Linked DNA regions of Homo sapiens. The protein of the gene in region 2 purifies or fractionates together with the protein of the main gene of each other region. This does not show direct contact. Each region holds a gene or a part of one and is shown on either strand. Other genes may lie near its edges.

What was found.
Region 1: the proteins of MORF4L1 (region 2) and RBBP7 purify together in Homo sapiens (affinity purification with mass spectrometry; 7 studies listed by BioGRID and IntAct, with this or other methods). This does not show direct contact.
Region 3: the proteins of MORF4L1 (region 2) and GATAD1 purify together in Homo sapiens (affinity purification with mass spectrometry; 9 studies listed by BioGRID and IntAct, with this or other methods). This does not show direct contact.
Region 4: the proteins of MORF4L1 (region 2) and ACTL6A purify together in Homo sapiens (affinity purification with mass spectrometry; 6 studies listed by BioGRID and IntAct, with this or other methods). This does not show direct contact.

What each region holds. Positions count from the first base shown.
Region 1 is NC_000023.11:16,860,352-16,867,378, forward strand, and holds part of RBBP7 (histone-binding protein RBBP7), read right to left. Parts: intron 2,750-7,027; coding exon 2,604-2,749; intron 1-2,603. UniProt on the Homo sapiens protein: Core histone-binding subunit that may target chromatin remodeling factors, histone acetyltransferases and histone deacetylases to their histone substrates in a manner that is regulated by nucleosomal DNA.
Region 2 is NC_000015.10:78,889,865-78,896,891, forward strand, and holds part of MORF4L1 (mortality factor 4-like protein 1), read left to right. Parts: intron 1-1,124; coding exon 1,125-1,150; intron 1,151-1,619; coding exon 1,620-1,708; intron 1,709-2,347; coding exon 2,348-2,449; intron 2,450-3,674; coding exon 3,675-3,763; intron 3,764-4,193; coding exon 4,194-4,366; intron 4,367-4,955; coding exon 4,956-5,040; intron 5,041-7,027. UniProt on the Homo sapiens protein: Component of the NuA4 histone acetyltransferase (HAT) complex which is involved in transcriptional activation of select genes principally by acetylation of nucleosomal histones H4 and H2A.
Region 3 is NC_000007.14:92,443,479-92,450,492, reverse strand, and holds the start of GATAD1 (GATA zinc finger domain-containing protein 1), read right to left. Parts: upstream 3,012-7,014; 5' UTR 2,764-3,011; coding exon 2,515-2,763; intron 1,742-2,514; coding exon 1,616-1,741; exon of another isoform or gene 1,402-1,615; coding exon of another isoform or gene 1,237-1,401; exon of another isoform or gene 1-1,236. UniProt on the Homo sapiens protein: Component of some chromatin complex recruited to chromatin sites methylated 'Lys-4' of histone H3 (H3K4me), with a preference for trimethylated form (H3K4me3).
Region 4 is NC_000003.12:179,579,899-179,586,925, reverse strand, and holds part of ACTL6A (actin-like protein 6A), read right to left. Parts: intron 6,287-7,027; coding exon 6,225-6,286; intron 6,033-6,224; coding exon 5,918-6,032; intron 5,787-5,917; coding exon 5,706-5,786; intron 3,574-5,705; coding exon 3,478-3,573; intron 381-3,477; coding exon 294-380; intron 1-293.

The DNA.
Region 1 (7,027 bases), on a different chromosome or scaffold from region 2:
TTTGAAAAGTCACTGTCTTAATGATAATATCCATTAAAAAATGTAACTCAATATTGGCCGGGCGTGGTGGCTCATGCCTGTAATCCCGGCACTTTGGGAGGCCAAGGCGTGCGGATCATGAGGTCAGGAAAGCAAGACCATCCTGGCTAACAAGGTGAAACCCCGTCTCTACTAAAAATACAAAAAATCAGCTAGGTGTGGTGGCGGGCGCCTGTAGTCCCAGCTACTCGGGAAATCGCTTGAACCCAGGAGGCAGAGGTTGCAGTGAGCTGAGGTCACACCACTGCACTCCAGCCTGGGTGACAGAGCGAAACTTCGTCTCGAAAAAAAAAAGAAAAAAAAAAAGAAAAAAAAAATATATATACTGAATATTAACAAAGGTATTAACTGAATTATTTCAGCTACTTGTTAGAATACACTGGATGTGTAACTTTAATAATATATTAACATCATTATGCAGAGACTGTTAAACTGCAAGCCCGGTAAATACATACTTCAGGGCTAAAAGCCATTTAAAAATTTCTGATTACAATATATTCAGGCCGGGAGTGGTGGCTCATGCCTGTAATTCCAGCACTTTGGGAAGTTTAGGCAGGCGAATCACTTGAGGCCAGGAGTTCGAGACCTGCCTGGCCAACATGACAAAACCCAGTCTCTACTAAAAATACAAAAATTAGCCGGGCATGGTGGTGGACGCCTGTAATCCCAGCTACTCTTGAGGCTGAGGTACGAGAATCACTTGAACCCAGGAGGTGGAGGTTGCAGTGAGCCGAGATTGCACCACTGCACTCCAGCCTGGGCGACTGAGCGAGACCCTGCCTCATAACAAACAAAAACAAAACACAAAAAAACCCCAATATTTAAAGAAATAATGCATACAGTTGTCGGGGAATGAACAGTAAATTGTGGGAGTAGTAAACTGGGTAAATCACTTTGGAAAATAGTTTTCTATGAAGTTGACAATGAATACACCATACAACCTAGCAGTTTCACTACACTAGAGAATGTAGTATTTTTGAGACAGGATCTTGCTCTGTTGCTCAGGGTGGAGTGCAGTGGTGTGATCCTAGTTCACTACAGCTTCGAACTCCTGGGCTCAAGCGATCCTCAGCCTCCCAAGTAGCTAGGACTACAGGCATGCGCCACCACACATGGCTGATTTTTAATTTTATTTTTTGATAGAGACAATGTCTCACTGTGTGCCCTGAGTGGTCTTAAACTCCCAGGCTCAAGCGTTCCTCCTGCCTTGGCCTCCCGAAGTGTTGGGACTATGGGTATAGCCACTGCACCTGGCCAGTATTTTATTTTCAATAAGAAAAAAACCCTAAGGCACATATTAGAAAGTGCTAATAGCGTTAAGCCATTTGGGACTGTGAAGAAAGAGTTAATACAGCAGTCTGGGTGCTTAGCCCTGGAGTCTCTGAGGAACACTGGGACCCTATTACTGACCCTTGGCTAACTCCTGGGAACATGCACCTCAGAATGTTCTTTCTGTCACTGATGAACTGATGATTTTGTGGTGTGCACCTGGAGCAATGGACCGCGTTGTACCAGTTTGTCAGGGTTACTCTGCAGATATCAAGATTGATGACACGTACCTTCTTTTATTACTGGGTCCTCAGTTTGTATTACTGGGGTCCTCAAGTTACAGTTGCTGTGGCTGGTTGTCAGCAGGATGTGCCTATGCAACTAGTCCCCCAAGAAAGCCTCAGACCCCAAGACCCAAACAGGCTTCCCTGAGCAGAGATATTTCACACATGTCCCTGCAGTTTGCTGCCGGAAGACACATCCTGTGTGGCCTTGGACAAGACTTGTGCCAGACCTCCCTGAACTTGCCGATGTACATCTTTTTCCTGCTGCTTTTGTGTTCTTTACTGTAACAAACTTTAGCCACAAGTATAATTTGCTCTTGGGAGTCCTAGCAAAATCACCAAACTTGGGGTGGTCATGGGAATACCAAAACAGGAGAGTATATGTTTGACAAATTAAAAAAAGAAAAAAGCAGCCAACAGATTCCTGAATTAACCCTACCACTACTGCCTCTCTCCTCAAACAAAAAATACCCATTGCACACACCAACACATATTACTTTTACCAAAGTGGAATACTGTAATTACACATAGCAGTTAGTCACTTAATTTATCTTGGATACCTTCCTATACCAGTGCCTACAGATTTTTCTCATTAAAAAAAAAAATTTTTTTTTTAAATTTTTGGTAGAAATGAGGTCTGTGTTTTTCAGACTGGGCTTGAACTCCTGAGTTCAAGCAATCCTCCCACCTTGGCCTCCCAAAGTGCTGGGATTATAGGCGTGAGCCATGGCACCTGGCCTTTCTTATTAATTGCTGAGTAGTATTTCAAACATACCATGTGCTTAACCAACTTTCTATGAACCAACATCTGGGTTACAAGGTTGATCCTAATTTTTCAATTCTGCAATTACGACTAAAATCCTTGTGCACATGTGGGTGGGAAGTTCTGTAGAATAAAGTCCTAGAAGTTAAATTACTGGGCCAAAAGCTAATAGTATAGTTTTAATAGCATATGCTTTGAAAGAGACATTTTCCCTTTGACACCAATATTGGAATATATGATATACCTACCACCCTTGTCACTGTCACAATGGGAAGCATCAAACTGTGCATCATCATTGGGAATATGTACTCGAGCAACCACCAGATGATTCTGCTCATCAGACGTATGAGTCCCCAGCACTAGCCAATGAAGGGCATAATCTTTTCCTTCAGGTCTGTTTAAGAAAGAAAATAAGTCACACTAATCCTACAAGAAATCTCCAATTGCTAACAAATTCAGTCTAGTTCCCTCAAAATACATTCATATTTCTTTAGCAAATATATACTTAGCATCAACTGTGTATCTTCTCCCCCTCTGGTTACCAACTTTACAATCCCCACATATGCAAATATAAGAAAATATTCTAGCTACAACATGCAGAGGGCTTGCTTCTTTCCCAAAGAGCCATCCTCCTGTGCCTCAATTATCAGCGTGAACACTACCTTTTATAGAGCAGCACTCCGGGGAAGGTAGGCCCAACTCAGTAAACACAGACAAACATCTACACAGGAATCCACCAACAATCCCCACACTCATAAATCACAACTTCCCACCTAAAGAAATCTTCTTCCCACCTAAAAATATCTTATACACTAGATGTTTCTTATTTCCCAATAAGAAATTCTACAAGGTAGTATGGACAGAAAGTGTTGAATCAAAAAAACTTAGCTTAAATCCTGGATCAAACTAAAATGCAGTTGCTTAAAACACAACCTCCCTGGGGCCTCAGTTTCTTCACTGAATAAAATAGGCTATAAGTGCAAATGGCATGATGTGAAACTCACTGACGTTTATGATACCTAAGTTTATGAAACGAACATTCTCAATTTTACCGAGGTATCTTTGTTACCTTGTTCTGTGGAAACACCTTGAGGCTGAAGAACTTGCCCAAACCTCTTGGCACCTTGGTCCGAGCAGTGATTTTTGCATCAGTATCTATTAAAAAGGCTTTCCCATTTGTATTATCTAGAATACAATTTTCAACTGTGCTCCATGGTCCCACTTCAATGAAGAGGACTGAGAAGTAGGGGTCTAGGCCCTAACACAAGACAAGTTAGGCCATTTATCTGTTTCTAAATTTCAGCTGCACAAAGGATTCAATTTTTTTTTTTTTTCTAAAAAGATTGAAGATTACTTCTAGGCAAGTAATTTAGTAATAAGAAAATACAAGATGCAATTTTACCAAAATTTGGCTTACGGTAAAAAAGTGTGTGCACATGGAGAAGAGACACACACACACACAGACACACTCCCCCCAAAACAGAGTAAGGCAGCCGTGACTAAGCAATAGCAACGTGTTTGAAAAAAAGACAAATGGGCGCCGTGGCTCACGCCTGTAATCCCAGCACTTTAGGAGGCCAAGGCAGGCGGATCACCTGAGGTCAGGAGTTCGAGACCAGCCTAGCCAACGTGGAGAAACCCCATCTCTATTAAAAATACAAAATTAGCCGGGCATGGTGGCGCATGCCTGTAATCCCAGCTACTCAGGAGGCGGAGGCAGGAGAATCACTTGAACCTGGGAGGTGGAGGTTGTGGTGAGTCAAGATCTCAAGATCACACCATTGCACTCCAGCCTGGGCAACGAGTGAAACTCCGTCTCCAAAAAAAAAAAAAAAAAAAAAGAAAAAGAAAGAAAACATGGGTCTTGGTTGATACATGCACAGTGGGCCAAGAATATGATGTGGCTATCAAAAAATTAATTAATTCCATCTTAGGTGGTCTTTATATGTATGTAGGGGGCAATGCACATGAGCACATGTGCCCCCCACCCCCGACCTTTTCTTTTTTTAAGAGACAAGGTCTCACTATGTTGCCCAGGCTGGCCTCCAACTCCTGGACTCAAGTTGATCCTCCTACATCAACCTCTTCAGCAGCTGGGACTACAGATGTGTGCCACCATATCTGGCTTGCCCACTTATTTTTAACCAGTAAAACCATTAAAATTAGGCTCTAAGCAACATACTTTATGAGGACTTGGATAAAAATCAAACCTTTACAGGGAATAGTGGCTTAAAATGAAAGGGTAAGCCAGGTGCAGTGCTGTGCACCCGTAGTACCAGCTACTAGGGCTACTACGGAAGACTGCTTGAGCCTAGGAGTTCATGTCCAGCCTGGGCAACATAGCAAGACCCTGTCTCAAAAAAAAAAAAAAAAAAAAAAAAAAAGAATAAATATTTGGCCGGATGTGGTGGCTCACGCCTCTAATCCCAGCACTTTGGGAAGCCAAGGCAAGCGGATTGCTTGAACCCAGGACTTCGAGACCAGCCTGGGCAACGTGGCAAAATCCCATCTCCACAAAAAACAAAAAACACAAAAACAAAAAACAAAAATTTAAATAAATATTTAAAAAGAGAAATAATAATGCTTGAGAGAAAGAAGGCACCACAGAGCAATGCTGGTACTGTCATCAAAGGAAAAAAGTCACTTGTTTTTTGTGGAGTTGAGCAGGAAAACTAAGACCAACAAGTAAAAAATAACAGGTAGGTCAGTTTATCACAGGCCCTTTCTAAGGAACACTGTCCCAAGACGGACTGGAGGAGCTTAAAAATCCCTCTGGACTCAAATTTAATTATTCCAGTTTTCCCCAACTTGATCATCATATGAGGACTTTTCTTTTTACTAGAAATCCCTTCACCTCCATCATTAAAACACAGCCTGTTTTCCTAAACTAATCAATATGACACTATTTTCCTCCAATACTGGATGTACCTAAAGGCTGCAGAAGGACTAATGGTTAAGAAAGCCTATTCATTTTCAGTGCAGAATCCTTTGACCCCAGTAACTACCACTAGGAAATTTAGCCAAGCATCACATAAATCTGGCCTATTGCAAGATTATTCTCAGCAGTATTGTTTATAGAAGGAAAAAGACTGAAAATAACTAAGTATCCATCAGCAAGGAACTGGTATCATACATTACACAGTGTATCCATAAACAAAATTCTATGGCACTCTTGAAAAGAACAAGCATATCCAAGCATGCTGACAGGAAAATCTCCAATACATACTCTTACTGACAAACTCAAGTGAAGAACTTGCTACCATAAAAAATGAAGATACAGGTATGCACTTCTACACGCTGGCAAGGATGGGTTAGGAAATTGAAAACAATGACTGGGGAAAGGAAGTAGGACAGTAAGGGATGTGGAAAGGGGACTTATTCTTCACTCTATGTCCTTTTATACTTCCTGAATTTGAAAAATTACAAAGCTTTTTAGGTAGACAATAAGTTAGTCTCAATATATTTAAGACATTATTCAACAAGAGATATGAAATAACTATCTAATTAAAACAAATTTCTTAGAGATACTTAAATAAAACCTTTTAAAAGCCAAATCAACACCTGTAATCCCAGCACTCTGGGAGGCCGAGGCGGGCGGATCACGAGGTCAGGAGTTTGAGACCAGCCTGACCAACATAGTGAAACCCTGTCTTTACCAAAAATACAACAATTAGCTGGGTGTGGTGGCACAAACCTGTAATCCCAGCTACTCAGGAGGCTGAGGCAGGAGAATCGCTTGAACCCGGGAGGTGGAGGCTGCAGTGAGCCAAGATGGTGCCACTGCACTCCAGCCTGGGAGACAGAGCGAGACTGTCTCAAAAAAAAAAAAAAAAAAAAAAAAAAAAAAAAAAGAAAGAAAGAAAGCAAGAAAGCAAGAAAGCAAGCCAGCCAGCCAAATCAATTATTTGGACAATTACCTAACTCAATTGAAGGACAATAGCTAAGAAAGTCCAAGTAATCGTTATGAAGCATGTTGTAAGTCAGCAGAAGAAAGGCCTATGAGGTGGAGTAGGATCTTGTTCCTCAGAGTCAGGCATTGAGAATAGTCAACATTTTTACTGTTCTGTATGGTGATAAAACACAGTCCCTTTATACCCCAAACTGAACCCTGCAAAGCACCACACAACAATCCTCAACATCCAAGAATGCAGGCTGCTTGGCATTTTCTTACATTCTCTAAGCCACTGCACATCCCACAACCCAATCCCACAACAGCTTTGTATACAAAGAACACCATGATACACATTAAATAATTTAATTAAAGCATTTTGTTACATTCCTAAGTATTACATATTATAGGTAACATTTTTTTAAAAAAAACTTCAGCAAGTAGCTTTCATTGAAATCCAAATGAAGAAACAGAGCTATTTCAATCCTGACAAATTATTTCTGAACAGGAAGGGGTGGGAGAATCAGCATCAGTCACCACTTACCGTGTACTTATGCTGCACCAGGCACTTTAACATGCATGATCTTATTTCATTCCCTCAAATGTAGGTAGTCAGTATGACCAACATCTCCATTTACAGCCCAGACAACACGGCCCCAGTTCATGAAGCTAAGAAGTAGGGGCATGATTTTAACCCAGGTCTCTAAGTTTAAAGCCCCTGCTGTTTTCTATTATGTTACAGTGGGTCAAAAAGATCCCCCAAAAGGTAAATTTAGTTAATAC
Region 2 (7,027 bases):
CGAAAGTAATCCATAATCATGGGCTCTATAAACTGTTTCCTTTGTGGTCTAGAAATAATAATGTAAAAAAGCAAAATTAGGCCAGGCATGGTGGCACACGCCTGTAATAGCATTTTGGAAGGCCGAGGTATGCGAATCACTTGAGGTCAGGAGTTTGAGACCAGCCTGGCCAACATGGTGAAATCCCGTCTCTTAAAATACAAAAATGAGCTGGGAGTGGTGGTGGGTGCCTATGGTCCCAGCTACTTGGAAGGCTGAGGCAGGAGAATCGCTTGAACCCGGGAGGAGGAGGTTGCAGTGAGCCGAGATCACCCAACAGACAGAGCAAGACTCCATCTCAAAATAAATAAATAAAGCAAAATTAGCAATTTACCATTTGACAGTATATAAGTGACGTGAGGTAAGTTGCTGTTAGAGATGATAATCAAGATGAGGAGACTTAAAACAAAAAAATTACACAAATCTAAAAATATTTTGGGGAACAAAAATAATTGGAAAAAAATTTTAACCTTTGACACCTTTTTTTTTTGGTGGGCCTAATAATGTAGTATATACTATAACATATATTAATATAACCCTGGAAGAACGAAGTTGTTTACTAAAGTGTTCTTGGTTTGCTTTTCTTTTTTTTTTGTCTTTGAGACAGGGTCTCTGTCACCAAGACTGGAGTGCAGTGGTGCAATCAAGGCTCACTGCAGCCTTGGCCTCCTGGGCTCAAGCAATCCTCTCACCTCAGCTTCCCAAGTAGCTGGGACTATAGGCGTTTGCCAGTATGCCCAGTTAATTTTTGTATTTTTTATAGAGAACAGGATTTGCCATGTTGCCCAGGCTGGTCTGGAATTTTGAGCTCTAGAGATCCACCCCCTCTTCACCTCCCAAAATGCTGGGATTACAGGCATGTGCCACTGCGCCTGGCTTGGTTTATTTTTTTCTATTATGTGGAGAGAGATGGGAATTTAACCAACTATCAATAAAAATCCTTGTGTCTGAGTAGGACACATATTTACCACCTGATCCTTTATCCAAGTTAGTATTTCTCTGTGAACTTAACCCTGATAAAGGGAGTTGAAACAGAGGCAGTTTTACTGGAAATAATTATTTTTCTTTTTTTTCTCTCCTTTTAGGAAAACGAAAAAGAACAAACAGAAAAGTAAGAATATTAACTTTCTTAACGTTAATTTATGTTACCTCTATGACATTGACGTTTTTATTTTGAAAGCTATGAAATTTTGGAGTAAGCTTATGTTTATTGATTATCTCAAATAGGAGTCTCACAGCAGTGTTATAAAATAGGTACATGGTGGTAGAGACCTCTTTTTGCCAAGGAGAAACTTGTGAGCATTTATTTTCATCTGCTTTAGTCTTAATGTCTCCCACTGAGAAGATAACATTTATAAATAAATGGAAGATGGTGATACTAAATGTTGTCTATACTAAATGTTCGGTAGAGCTCTTCATGAAAGTTGTATTTTTGGTAGGAATATGATTCTTTAACTTAGATTGAGGTAACAGCTGTGTAATGGAGAAATAATGAAAAGGGTTAATGTGTCAAGAGACTATTTTCCTTATAGAGTTTGTTAAATTAGCTAAATGAGACCCCTCCCCGCCAACATTTACAGCACCTGGAAATGGAGATGGTGGCAGTACCAGTGAGACCCCTCAGCCTCCTCGGAAGAAAAGGGCCCGGGTAGATCCTACTGTTGAAAATGTGAGTTTTTCTTGTGTTTATGAATAGCATGTTAGGATTTTTAGTCTCAGTTACATGACATAACCATGGGAGCTTTGATTATCTACAAGATTTGCTTACATGGTTAATACCTGAAATTAAAAATTTTCTCTTTTGGGGGTAAAGGATAAATTTCTGTATATCTTTATTTCACCTGTAGCTCCAGATTTACCTACCCAATTGATCATTTGTTGTGTAAGCTTCATGTTCACCTACAAGACTATTTCTTTGGTGTTACGTATTTATTTTTAGGAGTTAAAGATGTACCTTTAAGATGGTTGTGTTTGGAATAGTTTTGATATCCATGGTAAATAAGAAAATACTAAGTTAAAATGTATCAAGTCAGGGTGTTTCATTTCCTGAACAAGAGGAACCTTACTGAAGAATTTTTACCTTTACAAGAAAATGCACTAAATAGACTATAGTTCAGGTCAGATTCTTTTCTCCCAACAGCGAACCGCGTATGGTCGTTTTTATTAATGATTTTAAAAAATGACAGTACAGCTGTATGCTTGGCTACTTTAAGATTTATCCCTAGTGCCTCTAAAAGTCAGCTCCCCTCCATGTTTGGTATTTAGCAAGAAAGGTTAGGTTTTTAATACTCCTCCTGTTTCTGTTTAGGAGGAAACATTCATGAACAGAGTTGAAGTTAAAGTAAAGATTCCTGAAGAGCTAAAACCGTGGCTTGTTGATGACTGGGACTTAATTACCAGGCAAAAACAGGTAACTTGAAAAGCTACCCAGATTGTTAAGCTATATGATACATTCTTGCTAGCAAAAAAAGTTTTTAAAGGAAAATGTTATATTGACTTGAATTATTAAGGTATGACTGATAAAATAATATTTTAATTTAGAGGCTGAACACTTTAGAACTACTACCAGAAAGAGTAAGTTAGAAGAATAAAAGTTCACATATAAATTTTATGAGGTTATAATGATAAAGGTGGAAATAACTCATTTTTGGAGATTGCTAGGGCAGGAACTCGTTCTGAAAATTCATAAAGGTGAAGAAGCATATGTCTTACTGTCATTGCTAATGGTAGGCCATAGAAAGCACACACCACCACCTGCAAGGTATTCATGACCCTGAAAAGAACCTGAATCTTACTAAGCGCCTGGATCTATTGTTAGTTTGCAGGAAATAGGATGTTTAATGGAGTGACATGTTTGTCAATCGTTGAACTCTATAATTGAGAATTTTATAGGACAAATGAAGCTATTTGAACAAATGGCATAGGTAGGGTTAGGGATAGTTGGGGGAGATGATTAGGGACTGCTTGAGGATTATGAGACTTAAGAGACCTATCAGTCATATACAGTATGTGGATATAGTTTGAATTCTGATTTGAATCCTTTGGAGGGTTATGCAGTTACAGCTAAACTGCGAAGATTCAAGCATGGCTGTATCACTTATTATTTGTGAGTTTGGACAAGTTTCTTAGCCTTTTTGTGCTTCTGTTTTTGCATTTAATGGAATAATAGTTTGTATTTGACAATGCTGATGAGAGGACGAAAAGATAATTATTTTAATGCTTTAGACTAGATCTAGCAAATAGTATGCATAACAGTAAATGATGACTTGGTAGTACCACAAAGGCACATTCGTGTCTGTTATGTGTGTGTGACAGATTGACATTTTTAAAAGCTGTGCTGTTCTGTCTAGTAGAGTCTCATTTGGCTGTTTAAATATATAGATGCTCCATAACTTAGAATGGGGTTACATCGCAATAAACCCAGCAGAGAGTTGGAAAATTAAGTCCAAACCATTGTAAGTTGGGAACTGTCTGTAGTTTCTCAGCCACATTATCCATGTTTTAAGTGCTGAATAGTATCTTTCCTAATTTGAAATACTGTTACTGTTACCTGATCTTTGTATAAAAACTTGCCTGGTATGATTTTTCTTTAAAAAAGAGAGTGCTTATATTTAAGCATATTTTTGTCTTCATAGCTCTTTTATCTTCCTGCCAAGAAGAATGTGGATTCCATTCTTGAGGATTATGCAAATTACAAGAAATCTCGTGGAAACACAGATAATAAGTAAGAATATACATTTTTCAGATGACACTCAAAAGACATTTAAAAAAGTTTCTAAATAAGTCATCTGAAACTTGTACTGACTCCGAAACATTAATACCACCAGAAACTAGCAAAATAGAATTTCACTGCTTTGACACAGGAGTTGGCTGGCTGACTTTTTCTTAAAGGGCCAGATAGTAAATATTTTAGGTAAAATTTAAGCTATCATGTAGGTATTTGCATAACCATTTAAAATTTAACCATCTGAAAATGTAAGAATCATCTTAATTGCTTTAGTTTGTCAAACCCTGCTTTCATATGCCCTTTAAAAAAATCTCAGCTATGGTTCATTATTACTAGCTCAGCTTTTAATTCTTTAAATTGGTTGAATTATTCTCTATGTCAGTTATTTTTATTGACCAGTTTTGGAATATTTTTGTTCATTTATCAGGGAGTATGCGGTTAATGAAGTTGTGGCAGGGATAAAAGAATACTTCAACGTAATGTTGGGTACCCAGCTACTCTATAAATTTGAGAGACCACAGTATGCTGAAATTCTTGCAGATCATCCCGATGCACCCATGTCCCAGGTGTATGGAGCGCCACATCTCCTGAGATTATTTGGTAATATGTCATGTAGAAAATAATGGATTTTACTTTTTGGGGGGTCTTCTCTAAATGAATAAGAGGTAAAGTAATTAACTTTCCAAAACATGACTCCCATTTTAATTTGAACTTTTATCTAGAATGTTAAATAGCAAAATCTCTTTAGGAGCAAGAGTTTTAAAAATCGTGTATTTTATTTTATAATTTTTTTTTTTTGAGACAGACAGTCTCTGTTGCCCAGGCTGGAGTGCAGTGGTGCGATCTTTGCTCACTGCAACCTCCGCCTCCTGGGTTCAACAATTCTCCTGCCTCAGCCTCCCAAGTAGCTGGGATCACAGGTGTGCACCACCACATCTGTGGTAATTTTTGTATTTTCTGTAGAGATGGGGTTTCACCACGTTCGCCAGGGTGGTCTTGAATACCTGACCTCAAGCGATCGCCTATCTCGGCCTCCCAAAGTGCTGGGATTACAGGCGTGAGCCACTATGCCCGGCCTAAAATCATGTATTTTAAAGGAATTGGTGGTGTTTGCTCACATAATTAAAATACATGGTTGTAGTGCCCCTGCCTTGGATGTAACTTTGGATAAATTCTCTTGTTTAAACAGTACGAATTGGAGCAATGTTGGCTTATACACCTCTGGATGAGAAGAGCCTTGCTTTATTACTCAATTATCTTCACGATTTCCTAAAGTAAGTCTGTGCTTGAAATTATAAACATGGATTTGAAAATTAGCGTGTAATGGGAGGGATTGGCAGTATAGATGCTAAAACATTAAACATTATATTGGTACAGGCATAGATAGTTGGTAATGGAGCAGTAAAAGTAAGTGCAAACACATGGGAGTCTCAGAAATGATAGATGGTATATAGATGATATATTGGTGCAGTAGGGGAAAGCAGTGGAGTCTGGTAGATTGGTGATAAGACAGCTGACAGTTTGGAAGAAAACAAAGCCACACTTGTCATGTACCAAAATTCTAGATGAATCTGAAGTTTAAAATTAAATTGTTAAGATAATGAAAGGAGAAATGTAATATTTTCATAGTTCTATAGTGTTCCATTTATGATAAATGGTTGGTACCTTTAATACACACAGAGTTCTTCGGTAAGAAATGAACAAACCAGTGAAAAGTAGGACAGGAAATTTACATCAATGGCAGCACAAAGGACCATTAAAAATATGTCAGAAATAATGATGAAAGTATAAACTGTCAGTAAAGTAGCACTTGTCAGATTGGCTAAGGTTTAAATGTTTGAAGAAATGGAGAAAAGGGCAATCCTGGTTTCTACAAGTTTTTGGAGGGCATTTTTATAATAGTGAAGAATTTGAAACAAGCACTTATTAAAAGGGTGAGGTCACTCTAAACATACTGATAAAGATGTCCATGTTTTCAATTGAAAAACAGCCAAGCTGTAGTAGAGGAGTATGGTGTAATTGTTACTTGTAGAGAAACATTATTTTAATCTTTGCATAAGATCTGGCTTTCCAATGTGGATCTTAGTTAATACTGGGTTATTTCTTGGGCGTGGTGTTGGAAGGGAGGGTGGGAGTTTTCAGTTTCTACTTTGTATACTTCTGTATATGAATTTTCTCATTACAATCGTTTTACAGTAAATTTAAAACTGCAACGTGGACTTGAGAATGTAGGCAAGATTTATCATCTTTTCTTTACTAATGATAAATACCTTCTTTGGACCTCAGTTTCTTTATGGAATGTGCTCTACTACTTGACATTTCACGTTCCCTTTTATGTAATTAAAAAAAAAAAGTTTATTCATTTAGAGATGGAGTCTTGCTCTGTCGCCCAGGCTGGAGTGCAGTGATGCGATCACAGCTCACTACAACCTCCGCCTCTTGGGTTCAAACGATTCTTGGGCCTCAGCCTCCCAAGTAGCTGGGATTACAGGTGCACACCACCATGCCTGACTGATGTTTGTATTTTTAGTAGAGATGGGGTTTTGCCATGTTGGCCAGGCTGATCTTGAACTCCTGGCCTCAAATTTTTGTGCCTCGGCCCCCCAAAGTGCTGTGATTACAGGTGTAAGCAACTGTGCTTGGCCTGATAGGATTTTTTTCTTTTTTCTTTTCTTTTCTTTTTTTTTTTTTTTTTTTTTTTGAGATGGAGTTTCACGCTTGTCCATGCTGGAGTACAGTGGCGTGATCTCAGCTCACCACAACCTCTGCCTCCAGGTTCAAGCAATTCTCCTGCCTCAGCCTCCCGAGTATCTGGGATTACAGGCATGCGCTACCATGTCCAGCTAATTTTGTGTCTTTAGTAGAGACGGGTTTCTCCACTTTGGTCAGGCTGGTCTTGAACCCCAACCTCAGGTGATCAGCTTGCCTTGGCCTCCCAAAGTGCTGGGATTACAGGCATGAGCCACCACTCCCGGCTGATAACGATTTTTTTTTTAGAAAATGTCTAGATGTTCTTTTAGGGTAATGCTGTCATGTAATAGGATAATAACTGTTTCTTAAAGATGGTTCAAGCTCCCAAGTTGGTATTCTGCAGACATAACTGTTCTTTGCTGTTTAGAAATAGGGGAGTAACTCCAGAGTTCATTCCTTTGTATATGTATAGTGTTGTTCATTGTATAACCTTATTTATTTACCTGAATTGTCATTATGTGTGGTTTTACTGTGAGAGAATGTCTGGTTTAATGTATTTTAGGAAAGTGT
Region 3 (7,014 bases), on a different chromosome or scaffold from region 2:
TGCTGAGACAAAGGACAACCTTCTGATTATGCTGCTGAGATCTAATGCAAAGTCCTCTCAGAGCTTCACTACACATAAACATTCCAGTTATAAAAATGTACCTGCTCTAATAGCCTGAGCATGACAGAATGCAAGTAACAGAAAATGTACAGATGAATACAAAGTGAAAAAGTGTCTCCTCAAAGACATTTCCCAACTCAACTATGGAACTAGCCATAATACTCAACATAGGTTTTCTAGCAAGCTGAAACTAAGGCTTTAGAAACTTTGAGAGTTCTTAGTAATTTGCTACCATCCAACCATTTTTGAGATCTCTACTAAAGCTTCAATACATACTTTTATGCCACAACATAGAAAGTAGGCCTCCCCAGATGTGTCTTGCTTAGTACCATTGAAGAAAGGTTGCAGAGAAACGATAATGAAATAATTGCTGAGAACACGGTATACCATACTTAAAAGGAAAAAAATGTGCATATGTGATACAAATATCAATAACATGTTTTGTGTAATCAACAAATGCCTCACTTAACTATAAAAATCTTAAATAAATTAGAAGCAACTAGTCTGAATAAGAAAATACTTTGGGGAAGGGAACATCACACACTGGGGCCTGTCGGAGATGGGGGCCAAGGGGAGGGAGAGCATTAGGACAAATATCTAATGCATGCGGGGCTTAAAACCTAGATGATGGGTTGATAGGTGCAGCAAACCACCATGGCACGTATACCTATGTAACAAACCTGCACATTCTGCACATGTATCCCAGAACTTAAAGTAAAATTAAAAAAAATTCATTAAATTAAATTAAAAAAAAAAAAAGAAAATAGTCTGCCATCTGCATAAGTCTACTGCAGGGTCCCTTTGTGTTTTAGAAATAAATATGGCCAACTTCAGAAACGTCTTTACGGGTAAGTGAAACATTCCTGTTCTGAAAGAAAAGAATATCATACTGAGACTTAAAAAAATAGTCCATAATGCACTGTCCACTGTGTTTGAACATTATCCCTTGTTTATAAAAACTGAGAATTTAATTGCAATAAAAATATGCTTTCAACTACTTCCAGCACAGGTCTTTCAACAATCTCTTTTCTTAGAGCAGAAGAGGAGATAAGGCTTAGCAAAATTTTTGACTCATATTCATCAAATACATCATCATCATAAGTCAGTAAGATACATTTTCTGGGGCTTTAATAACAAATAAATATGCAAATGATGAGTTCTAGTGTTAATATTTACTTAGATTTTTAAAGAATGAAAAAAAAAAGTTTTCTTAGTGTACCTGGCCATATCAAGAACCATAATCTCTCCTCTTCCTTTCCATAGAGAACCCCAAAAAATGGGCTCAAGGTTGATGTTTCTTTTAAACCCATATTTTATATTTTCCAGGGGAAAAAATAAAAGCTAAAAAACAAAAAGGAAAGAGTATTATTAACTTTATAAACAGTGAGCCTCCTGCAACAGAGCTCATTCCCTTTTGGGGAATCTGGACCATTCCCCAGAATACTAAGGAAGGGCTACCAAGGGCAGAGTCCAAGTTCAATGGTGAGAAATGAAGGCAGTGGCAGGATACACACAACGTCATTACAGTAAAAGGCACTGTCCACAAATATCTTACATTTTTCAATTTAAATATATGTCTTCTCCCTTTTCCTTTGGTGGAGACTTTCTTTTCAGCAGCCGGAGCAGATTTGTATTTAGTGTTTCTGAGCCGAGCAGACCTCCTGTGAATTTCCTGCTTACTCTGTTACACAAACAAATTAAAGAACAAAAAGAGAAAGAAGTAAAAAGTGCATAAAGGTTGCAGTACAATCATCTTACAAGGATCCCAGAGTATGTACTTTATAAGAGCATTTAACAATTAAGATTGCCCTTTTGCTTTTCAAGAGAAGTAATTACAGCAACTAGGCTAAGTAAAACCGGAAGTTCAGCACCCGGAATCTCGGAGCTCGCTGGACAGGCGTCTCCAGAGCCTCCAAAAGGTGTGAGCTGCTTGTAATAGGGCAGGAGGCGGGAGTAGGAGTCAGTCTTGACCAAGACAAACACTATTCATTTGTTGTGTCTACAATAGAGAAAAACACTTAACAACTTTACTCCCTAAGGCCAGAGAACGTAGTAGGTTATGGCGCCCCCTGCAACGGAATACTTAAGCTGCCATTTACAATAATGACATAATAATCTTACTTCATAACCTGATATGACAAAACCTTTAACAAGGAATGAGGTCCAGCGCCTGCATTTGTGGCATGACACTGTATACGACTGTGTAGACATGTGTATATTGAGATTTTCTTAAGGGCTTTACATCTTGGTTCTTATTGCTTTGAATTTCTTACAATAACAGGTGCTTCGGAATGGGCCAAACGAAAGATCTCAGTAGGAGGTGGGGAGGGGCGTTCCAGCCAGCAGGAGCACGGCGATCGGGGAAGCCCGCGCCCGCCCGCTCCCAGCCAGCCCGTCCCCGCCCGCCTAGCACCTGGTCGGCCTCCGCCGGCGGGAGGGGCCGGAGGAGCTCACCTGCTTGCCGCCCCCGCCCCCGTTGCTCTGCGGAGGGGTGGCGGAGGTGCTGGCGAAGGTCGCCGCGCCGAAGCCGCCGCCGCCGCTGCCCCCAGTCCCTCCAGCCGCCCCCGAGCCTGCGCCCCCGCTGCCCGCGCCGCCCCGGCCAGTGCAATGATGGCAGAGGATCTCCCCCTGCGCTCCCTTCTTCCACATGGAGGACGACGTGGTCTTGCATACGCTGCAGGTGGGCTTCAGGCCCAGCGGCATGGTGGCCGGCTCGGGCGGCCCCCGCGGGCGCAGAGACACGGGAATGGCGGACGGTAGCCCGGCCGCCCCCTGGTCGGCCCGCCACTCCCGGCGATAGGAAGAGCGGTGAGAGCGTCGGCACGGAGCTGCCGGTGAAAGGACCAGGCCGCTGGCGCTGCCCCGTGGAGGCGGGAAGCGGGTTCCGCCGGCTCCGCAGGCGGAGGCCAGGATTCCCTGGCCCGAGGCACTGGGAAGCAGGACTGGGAAAGGGATCTGGCCGGGGTGGGGGGGACGCGGAGACTTCCGGCGGTGAGCTGGCCCCAGGGCCCCGCAGCCCGACCGCCTGACCGGAAGTGCAGCACCCGGAATTACTGGGAGCTTGCTGCAGTTCCGCTTGCTGTCGCCTAGGGGCAGGGTTCTCAAACTTTTTGGTCTCAGGCCTAGAATTTGCCGGGTAAAATACAGGACGCCCAATTAAATGTGACTTTCAGGTAAACGACGAACAATTTTTTTAGCGTGAGTGTATCCCATGCAATAATGGTTTATCCGAGAGGCGTTTAACTGGGGGTCCTGTATTTTTATGTGCTAAATCTGGCAATCCAGGTCTGGCGTGGTGGCTCACGCCTGCAATCCCAGCACTTTGGGAGACCAAGGCCGGCGGATTACTTGAGCTCAGGAGTTCGAGATCAGCCTGGCCAACGTGGTGAAACCCCTTCTCTAATAAATATACAAAAATTAGCCGGGCTCAGTGGCGGGCTCTGGGGTAATCCCAGCTACCCTGGAGGCTGCGGCAGAAGAATCTCTTGAGCGCGGGAGGTGGAGGCTGCAGTGAGCCAAGATCGCGCCATTGCACTCCAGCCTGGGGGATAGAGTGAGACTCCGTCTCAAAAAAAAAAAAAAAATCTGGCAATCTTACTTAGGAACCCTTTACACTCTTAAAAATTATACTTTGGACATCGCCCTACACCTCCCCCATGTCTATACTTTTGTTTAGTTGAATTCAGAGCATGCCGTTTATGGACATCGACAAAGGGTTCAGAAAATGCCATCCACTGACATCTATGTATTAGAAATTGAAATTGAGACATTTTACAGCCTAAGATGTCAAGCGCACATTCTTCAGCCGTTGGATAATATCGTTGCAAATCCTGTGGACTCTGAAGAGTATACCGATTAGAGAATGCGGAGAAAATCGAATAGCTGGCTGTTATTCAATTCAAAACTGTTGGAAAACAGTTTTGGCTCTGAGGACCCAGCAGTTGACAAACAGCAGGCCTGGGACAAGAGCAGTATGAGAAGTCAGATCGCCTCTTTTAATGTCACTAGTCAGTACAGGCCTCGCCAGACAAGTCTCTCCTCAGCCTCACTTGGAAGAACATGCCCTCTCTTCATGATCCTGGGTTTCCTAGACTTAGTATCCTTGGAAAGGTCTTGATGAATATATTGTGGTGGGAAGCAGTGGGGAGAAACAAACGCCTATTATGTCACAAAACCACATTTAGTGCTTATAACAACCTTGGAATGAGATATTATCAGATTTTACTGTTAATTGGTGATCAACGGAGGCACTTCTATGTGGACTGGCTGTCATTATAGCTGCTGCCCTTGGCACCAATTTCGAGGAGGGCTTTGGAACAGCCCTCTGGGGTGTGGGTTGTGGCTCAGTCACCTCCCCTCTAAATCTCAGTTTCCTTAACAGTAAAAATAAGTTTCCAGGACTGTTATGGGGATTAGGGCCAACTGTAAAAGTGGCTGAGGAGACTAGGTAAAGAGTGTTGTCTCACTTTAGAACAATGCTGAAGGTGTTTAGAGCCTGCCATCCTAAAATATGCCACTTTGGCATACTGATTCTTCTGAGCCAGAGGCAATGGAGCAAAAACAGATGCAGGGAAGGCTGTCTGACCACCCTCTTTCTGTTTGAAGCGGAACATAAAAGTTCCCTTGTGAAAGGTGCCCTTTCTGTACCAGGAAGAGGAGAATATTATTGCCAGAGGCAGAGTTGCCACTGAGAAGAATCTACAAACAAAACCTTACAAAAATTTGTAACCCATATTTTCCATTAACTTTCTACATACGGTTCTTCGTCACTTTCCCACAATTTGCCAGCCTTAGCCCAAGCCCCTTTGTCTTGTCACATCCCTGCAATTTATTATTTTTTGTTTAAAAGGACATATAAGCTTTCGGGCCTAGTAACTTCTATGGGTCTTTATTTTTCTTACAAAGCCTCCTGTGCATGTACAAAAATATTAAAACTTTTATGCCTTTTCCAGTAAATCTGTCTTATGTTAGTGTAATTCCCATGCCCAGCTACAGAACCAAAGAGGTGAGAAGAGGCCAGGCGTAGTGGCTCATGCCTGTAATCCCAACACTTTGGGAGGCTGAGGCAGGTGGATCACCTGAGGTCAGGAGTTCAAGACCAGCCTGGCCAACATAGCGAAACCCCATCTCTACTAAAATTACAAAAAATTAGCTGTGTGTAGTGGCAGGCACCTGTAATCCCAGCTACTCGGGAGGCTGAGGCGGGAGAATTGCTTGAACCTGGGAGGCAGAGGTTGCAGCCTGGGCGACAGAGCGAGAGACTCCATCAAAAAAAAAAAAAAAAAAGGTGAGGAGGAAGTTTCTCCTCACCTACAGTGTGAGGAAATCTAGGCACTTGATTTCCATGCTCCTGAATGTCTCTCCATTTGGGAACATATACCTCTCCTTGCAACTCATCTGCAAGTGACTCCCTCTCATTCACTGAAAACTTTGGCCCATAACTCACCAGCTTCCTCTCCACTACAAGACACTGCCATGGATCAGGTCAATATCCACATGTACAGTTGTCCCTCAGTATCCATGGAGGATTGATTCCAGGACTCCCGATGATACCAAAATCCACAATCCATAAATGCTCAAGTCCCTTATATAAAATGGCATAGAATTTGCATATAACCTATGCGCACCCTCCTGTGTGCTTTAAATCATCTCTAGATTACTTATACCAAATATGAAATAAATGCTATATAAATAGTTCCTATACTGTATTGGTTTATTATTATTGTCATATTGTTCATATATTTATCTATTTTTGAGAATATTTTCGGTCTGTGGTTGGTTGAGTTTGTGGATGTGGAACCCATGGCTGTGGAGGGCCAACTGAATAACCACCCAACAGCAGGCTTCTCAACTCCTCCTCATCCCACTCATCTTCATCCTCTGTCCTTGTCAGCTCCCCAGTCCCTGGCTGCTGTATCCTCTAATCTTCTTAGATCATTAGGAAGATTTACATTTTTCTCCTTGCAAGTCCTTTTTTTTTTTTTTTTGGAAATCGTGCTTCCTTTTGAGTACTTAATTCACACTGTTTCCTCTCTTGGATGCTACTATGGTAACAGTCAGGTCCTCTCCTCTCAAGAACATTGCATCTGACCAGACTGAGAGCCAGCGTGAAAGCCAGCCTGAACATGGGCCCCAAATCAGGGTTTTTGGAATCACAAGGAACAGCAAAAACCAGCCTTTCCCTTCACTTAGAAAGGGACTGTGAATAGGAGGGCCCCAATCTCCACCATCCAAACAGAAAACCAAGAGCTCAGTGCCAACATGGAAACCAAAATGTATCAGGAATGAAGTACAGTACCCCCTCACATACTCAAGGTCAAGATGGGTTTGGGGAAATACCTATCTGACCATCTGGCCTCTTCTAGTAGGCATGGCCCCACACCAGCATTTTTAAAAGAAGATGTTTTCATTCTTCTTACATTTTCTAAAGGGGTATAAAATCTACTAAAAGGGATATAATAACTCAGAGTAAATGAGCTCACAAGAATCATTCCTGGATAATCATTTTTGGTTGCTGAGATTATTCAGCACATTACTTCAAAGTGGCAAAATTCAGGGCAATCTGAGAAAAGAGAATTAAAAAGTGGTGGCCACATTTGCTGACATGTTTATGTAGGACGCACATAACACAACTCCCATTTTTTTCAGTGTGTATGTCAAGAGGCCAAGACCCTGATCATCAAAATAAGTTATTTTGTGCATTACAGTGCACAGGACAACAGAGGGAATAACACTTTCTTGGAGGGTGTTGTGGGAATTCAGGGACCCCAAACGGAGGGACCGGCTGGAGCTGTGGCAGAGGAACATAAATTGTGAAGATTTCATGGACATTTATCAGTTCCTAAATAATACTTTTATAATTTCTCATGCCTGTCTTTAATCTCTTAATCCTGTTGTCTTCGTAAACTGAGGATGTGCGTCACCTAAGGACCACTGTGATAATTGTGTTAACTG
Region 4 (7,027 bases), on a different chromosome or scaffold from region 2:
AAGCCCTGACCAGTGCCAATGGGGGTATTATTAGAAAAGGCATGCATACATTAACATATTTCCACCTCTGTTTGAGAGGGGACATTGAAATTAGGCTGACAAATGTCCACTAATTAGGCAGAGGCATTTTGTTACATCAGAACACATAAAACTGGTTATTCCATTAGGTCTTCCACTCATTTGACAGTTATAAAATGCACAGACAAATGAAGCACTGGAATTATTTTTTGTATTTTTACTAAATTTAGTATAATTCAGTAAGAATATTTTTGCAAAGTAGCTCATCTACTAACCAAAGAGGCTAGAATGGAGCCGCCAATCCATGAGCTAAACCTCCGTTCCACTGTTGTATTATTTGCAATCAATTTCAACCGCATACTCTGAAATAGAAGAATATGCATTAGTACAATCAAATCTTGTGACTCAACTTAGAAAATTCTTTTTTTTTTTTTTTTTTTCAAATAGAGACAGGGTCTTCCTCGCCATATTGTCCAGGCTGGTCTTCACATTTGCACTCAAGCAATCGGCCCATCTCAGCCTCCCAAAGTGCTGGGATTACATGCATGAGCCACTTGCACCCAGCCAGGAAATTCAATTTTGACAGACTTCATAATGGCTCCCTGTGGTTCAAACACTGATTAAAATACGGTAATTTTGAAATAGCCAAGATAACAAGCATAGGTTAGACTAATGTACAGACTTTTAAAAGTACTTTGATTATGGCTTTTAACATGCGATTATATGATGAGAAAACATACAAACTTTAAAAAGCTGCATACTGAAGTATAGCATTCACAATTTCTATCCTAAAATAGCAAATCCACACCTAACACTATAAATCTGGTGCTGTGCTAAGTCTTTATTATTTCATTTCATCCAACACCAACCTAATTATCATCCCAATCTGTCTCCCTTTCTGTAGTCCTCCCCAACCTTCTAACTGCTTCCTTTCTAGGCTTTCATGCTATCCTAATCCCTCCTTAGTTCACCCCAACCCTTCTAAATAAAAACACAACCATCAGATATCAGGTTAGTTTTTTATTCATACTATTTCCTTCCAAATTAGTGCTTCTGTTCTGACTCTCATTTTCTCTTGATAACACAATTTTATTGCACAGTACTATCCCCTATATCTCACTTCCTATATGAAGAGGTTTTTTTCTTTCTCTTACCAAGGAATCTGCCTCTGGGGACAGTTCTCAAGTTGTTGACATCTTCCTATTATTCTATAAATGAACATATTTTTGGGGCTTTTCAAAGTGAAATAAGTATGTGTGCAGCAAGGGTGGGTAGAGTATGGGATATGGGTGGGTAGAAGGTACTGGGGATAGGGTAAACATGGGTTTTTGTAGGTAAGAAAGATTGGTAACTATTAAATAGAATTTTTTTCCTGTTCTTTCAGAGATTGTTATCACCTCCTAAAGGACAAGGATAGTTTCTAACTGGCCTTGACCACAGCTTGGGCCATGCTTATCTGTATTCATTATTCAGGGACTTTCTATGAAATCTAATCATTAGTATTATAGACCGGTGCAGTGGCTCACGCCTATAATCCCAGCACTTTGGGAGGCCGAGGCGGGTGGATCACCTGAGGTCGGGAGTTTGAGATCAGCCTGACCAGCACGGAGAAACTGCATCTCTACTAAAAATAAAAAATTAGCCGGGTGTGGTGGAACATGCCTGTAATCCCAGCTACTTGGGAAGCTGAGGTAGGAGAATCACTTGAACCCAGGAGGCGGAGGTTACAGTGAGCTGATATCGTGCCACTGCACTCCAGCCTAGGGGACAAGAGCAAGACTCCATCTCAAGTAAATAAATAAATAAATAAATCTCCAATCAATCAATCAATCTAATGATTAGTATTATAATTCAGGTATGCTCTAGATCTCCAAGAATTTAGAAAATACAAGGCAGATGTCAACTGTGTGCCTATATATTTAGATATCACTTTTAATAATAGAAATGTGGCACACGTAAAACATTATTTTATATGGGAAGCTAAAAGACTATTAAATATACAGATTTATAGATATTGTTAGGGCATATGTAACCACTAATAAGGTTTTTTAAATGTAATCTTCAGTGCAGAACACCTTACAAAAAAAGCACTTGAAGTTTTGTTGTTGTTGTTTTTTTTTCCTGAGCCAGAGTCTTGCTTTGTCACCCAGACTGGAATGCAGTGGCATGATCTCGGCTTACTGCAACCTCCGCCTCCTGGGTTCAAGCGATTCTGCTGTCTCAGCCTCCCAAGTAGCTGGGATTACAGGCACGTGCCACCGTGTCCGGCTAATTTTTGTTATTTTTTTTTTTTTTTGAGATGGAGTCTTGCTCTGTTGGAATGCAGTGGTGTGATCTCAGTTCACTGCAACCTCCACCTCCCGGGTTCAAGCAATTCTCCTGCCTCAGCCTCCCGAGTAGCTGGAATTAAGAGGCTCCCGCCACCAGGCCCAGCTAATTTTTGTATTCTTAGTAGAGATGGGGTTTCACCATGTTGGCCAGGCTGGTCTCCCTGACCTCATAATCCATCTGCCTCGGCCTCCCAAAGTGCTGGGATTATAGGCGTGAGCCACCACGCCCAGCTGATAGAAATTTTAAAGTTAAAAGATTATAACTGTCATTCTGTTACCGAAGTACTATATAAATTACCTTCTCAAACCGAGTTTTTCTATTCTTTTAAAAGTTATTATAATATACCCACTGATCTTTTTAAAACAAACATGAGCTCATCAGTCCACTGCTAGATTTTATCCTGTGAAGAAGGAGGTATTTTCCCCTAGAGATTCAGCATAGCTCCACTGACACCTTGAGGCTTCTAGCCTCAAGAACTATAAGACAACAAATTTCTGTTGTTTGAAGCCACTAACATGTACTTTGTTACGGCAGCTCTAGGAAACTAATCCATCTTTCTAGCCATATTGCTTTCCCCACTTACGTAAAGACTAGAAGCCAACTACTTTGAATTACTGGAACATACCTGTCTTCTCTTAGTATTTTTGTAAATGGTTTTATTCCCTCCATCTAGATATCCTTTCATAAATTAGCAATGAGTTGAACTATTCATTCAAACTATAGCTTCTTCAGGAGGCTATCCTCTGATACTCCTAGAGAGTTAAGTAGTGGCTTCTTGGTGTTCCCAACAGCACCTCGTTCATGACATACTGAATTGTTGAGCATGTTACAGTCATCATTTTCTGCATGTCTAACCATCCTAGTAGACTGAGCCCTTGGTGTGCAGGGACTAGTGCCTAGCAGACTATACATATTTAAATATTAATAAATGAGATTCAAATAATTTAAGAGAAACTAATAGATGTCAACTAGGAAAACGATTAAAGGATATTAACTTTAGTGATACTATACCAGGCACACACAAAATATCATGTATCTATTGAAAAATGGACGCTTATCTACAAAATTACACCATCAGTGAGGAAATATATGACTGAAGAATACCATTAAAGAACAAACAGAACTTACTGGAGGAGTTTTCTGAGACAGCTCTCTATTCAACCTGTCAGTAAAACTCTGTATTAGTGTGTTTCCTCCTGCCACTATTACACTGCCATAGAGACCCTAGGATAAAAATACAAGAAAAATCAATTAGTTCCATATGTTTCCAAAAGTTTTAAATACAACTACAAATATAACCATGTGCTCTACTACAATTTCCCTTTCGTTTTTTGGAAATGTTTTACTATTATATAGAACTAATAGCTTAATCCATCAATTCTCCATCCTGGCTGTACATTCAACTCATCTAAGGAGCTTTTAAAACACAAATTCCTAGGGGCAATTAAATAAAAATGTCTGGGGATGGGATCCAGGCAAGGTTACTTTTAGAGACGGGGTCTCGTTATATTGCCTACATTGGAATGCAGTGGCTATTCACGGGCACAGGCATAGCGTACCACAGCCTCAAACTCCTGGGTTCAAACAATCCTGCCTCAGGCTCCCAAGTAGCTGGGACTACATGCCACTGTACCTGGCAGGCATGGTTTTTAACTCCCAAGATTATTTTAATGTGTACAAAGTTTTAAGAACCACTAACTTAAAGGAATCATTCTAAAAATCATAATTTTTTTTTGGCAGATAGCTGCCAATATTTAATTAGAAGTACATTTTATAATGACTTTATCTTAGAATGCTCATCTGGAAATATTAATAGCAACCACCAGCCAAAAATTAAAATTACAAATATTTTGAAAAAGAATGCTTATCTGTAAGTTAGGATATTCAAAGAATGCTCATCTGGAAATATTAATTGCAACCACCAGCCAAAAATTAAAATTACAAATATTTTGAAAAAGAATGCTTATCTGTAAGTTAGGATATTCAAAATTAGACAATTATTTTATGATTATGACAGACAATGATAAACTCTGAACATATTCCTCGCCAAAATTATTGCTACTTTTCTCTTTTGCAGAGGTAAGCATCAGAAGCACATGGGAGCTTTTCCAAAACACATATGCTAAGCCCTTCCCAAATAAAAATAAATTACTACTTATAAGCAGTGTATTTACTTTGAATTTGCATGTATGCATCAGAAAGTTAAATGTCAAACTGTTTTAGTGGGTAAGTTCCTATTTTTAAAACATACTTCAAATGTCTAAATCATCTAAATTTTGAAGTAGAAAATGGAATGCAAAAGTATCTCATTAGTTAAAAGGAGAAACTTCACTAAAAACAGTTATCACTGTTGCAATAAATATACTTCAATTCAATTACCTTCCCCGAAAGGTGGAATTGTATTTGCGCTAAAAAAATCCCAAACTTATACTACTATTGTCCTAGAAACATCACATGCCTACTAGGTTACCAGGTGAAATAAAGGTAAAATAAAGTATGATTTTCATAGCCACTCAAAGCCTTTTTTGAATAACATAGTAGTTATTAGCACTATGCTTTAAGCAAATTAATTTACTCAAAATCTAGGCAGTATGTGGGTGATAAGCTGAATTGGGTTTAAATAAGATAAAGTAAGTCCTCATTTAATGTCATCAATATGACCTTGGAAACTGACTTTCAGCAAAATGTCATGTAACAAAACCAATTTTTTTCCTGAAACAATGTCCTTCAAGGACCTACTGTACATCGTTTCAGTTAAAGTTGCAGTCTCCAAGAACCTATCACTGATAATGAGTGAAGTATATAATATGGAGTTAGTATTTAAAACCTGACAAAGCACAAAAAATATGAAGAGCATTTAAAATAAACTTCATGTAAAAGTTACTCATATAATTTAAACCACGCCTTCCTGAAAAATAAAAGTAGAAGTTGTGCTATCTGTAAGAAAATCACCAACAATACATATTTTGGTTTGCCACATTTCAGGAAATCTCTAGCGCAGTCTACAATAACTTTCTGTGATGATGCAAATGTTCTATATCTGCGCTGTCTGATGCAGCCACTAGCCACATTTATAATGAGGCTACTACAACTGAAGAATTGAGTTTTATGTTTTTATCTATTTTAAATTTAAATTGCCACATGTGGCGGGTAGCTACAAAACTGGACACCATAGCTCTAGAGTTTCACATTTTTCCTTTTCTAGTACTTCATCTTTTTACATATACTGTTATAAAATGAACCTCAAAGTCAATGACACTGACAACCATTAGATCACTGTCAACCTAACAATGATTTGGGGACATTTCAGTCCCCTAAAAGATACCTTTAAACCGTAACAGGAGACTGGCACTTACTGGTCTGATGTCAATATCACACATCCCAACACTTGTGGTGACAACATGACTGACTCCTAACATTGTGTTTCCTGATAACCCCTACAACAAAAGAAAACAAGTAGTCACATGGAAGCTCTTCATACAGTAAAGCATATCCAAAACATTTTAGCCACAAAAGCTCTTTACCTATATAGGAAAAGCCAGGCTAATTATGAAATAAGCTTTTATACCTTTACATTGGAAGGGTCAAATAATCCTTCTGGAATCTTTAGCCGCTCTGCACCAAAATCACAATTGTAGCCATTGGGGAATTCATAATGAACAGTTGGCATCTGTGCAGCCACTCTGAAAACATATTAAACCGTATTACACAAAAGACAAAAAATAATTCTCTTCAAAATTATAAACTACTAGGGAATTATAAACTTGTAAAAAAAAAAAAGGGAGTGAGAATATTTTAAACATTATTCAATTAAGTATTTTTTAAACAAATCCTTTCCTCATTTATAAAGTATACATTTTAATAAGAAAACATACTGTTCATCATAAGTTGAATCTGACACTTGAAGTACCGAAGCTTGAAAATCCTGGATAACACACTGTGAGTAAAAGAAAAAAGTAACAAACAAGGTTGAGATTTATCTTTGTAATCTATACTTTTATAACATATTTTAAATACTTTTCTGAATGAAATTGGACCATGTTTCTAGATGGGTAAATCATTTCAAGAGTATAAATGTACCTAACAAGGATTCTGAGTATCAAGAAACCTAATTCTAATCATTTGCATTAGAAGTTAATTACACACATTTAAGTTACAACAGTTATGAAATGAGAGATAAATAACTGCAGGTGCAGGAACCCCTGCACCACAGTTCTGCATAACAAAACCAATTTCAGAACACCACTTTCTCCTTAAAAATAAGCTAGATTAGAAGCAAGATTTCATTACCTACATATACACATGTGCATGTACATCACATTTTATGCAACTTTTAATGACTGTACATAGTATAAAACAGTTTAATAAAATGTTGTGAACTAACACGACCTCTAGAAAAATCTTGTCTAATATCTAGGAAAAATGACTAATCATCCTAATTTTTCCTCGTATATTACATGTGCACACAGACAAAATCTTTATCTTTAGGTGCAAAAACTGTCAGAGCTGGATGCAGTGGCTCATACCTGTAATCTCAGCACTTTAAGAGGCCGAGACAGGAGGATCGCTTGAGGCCAGGAGTTCAAGACCAGCCTGGGCAACATAGCGAGACACTGTCTCTATAAAAATAAAAAATTAGCCAGGCATGGTGGCATGCACCTGTAGTCCTCCCTACTGA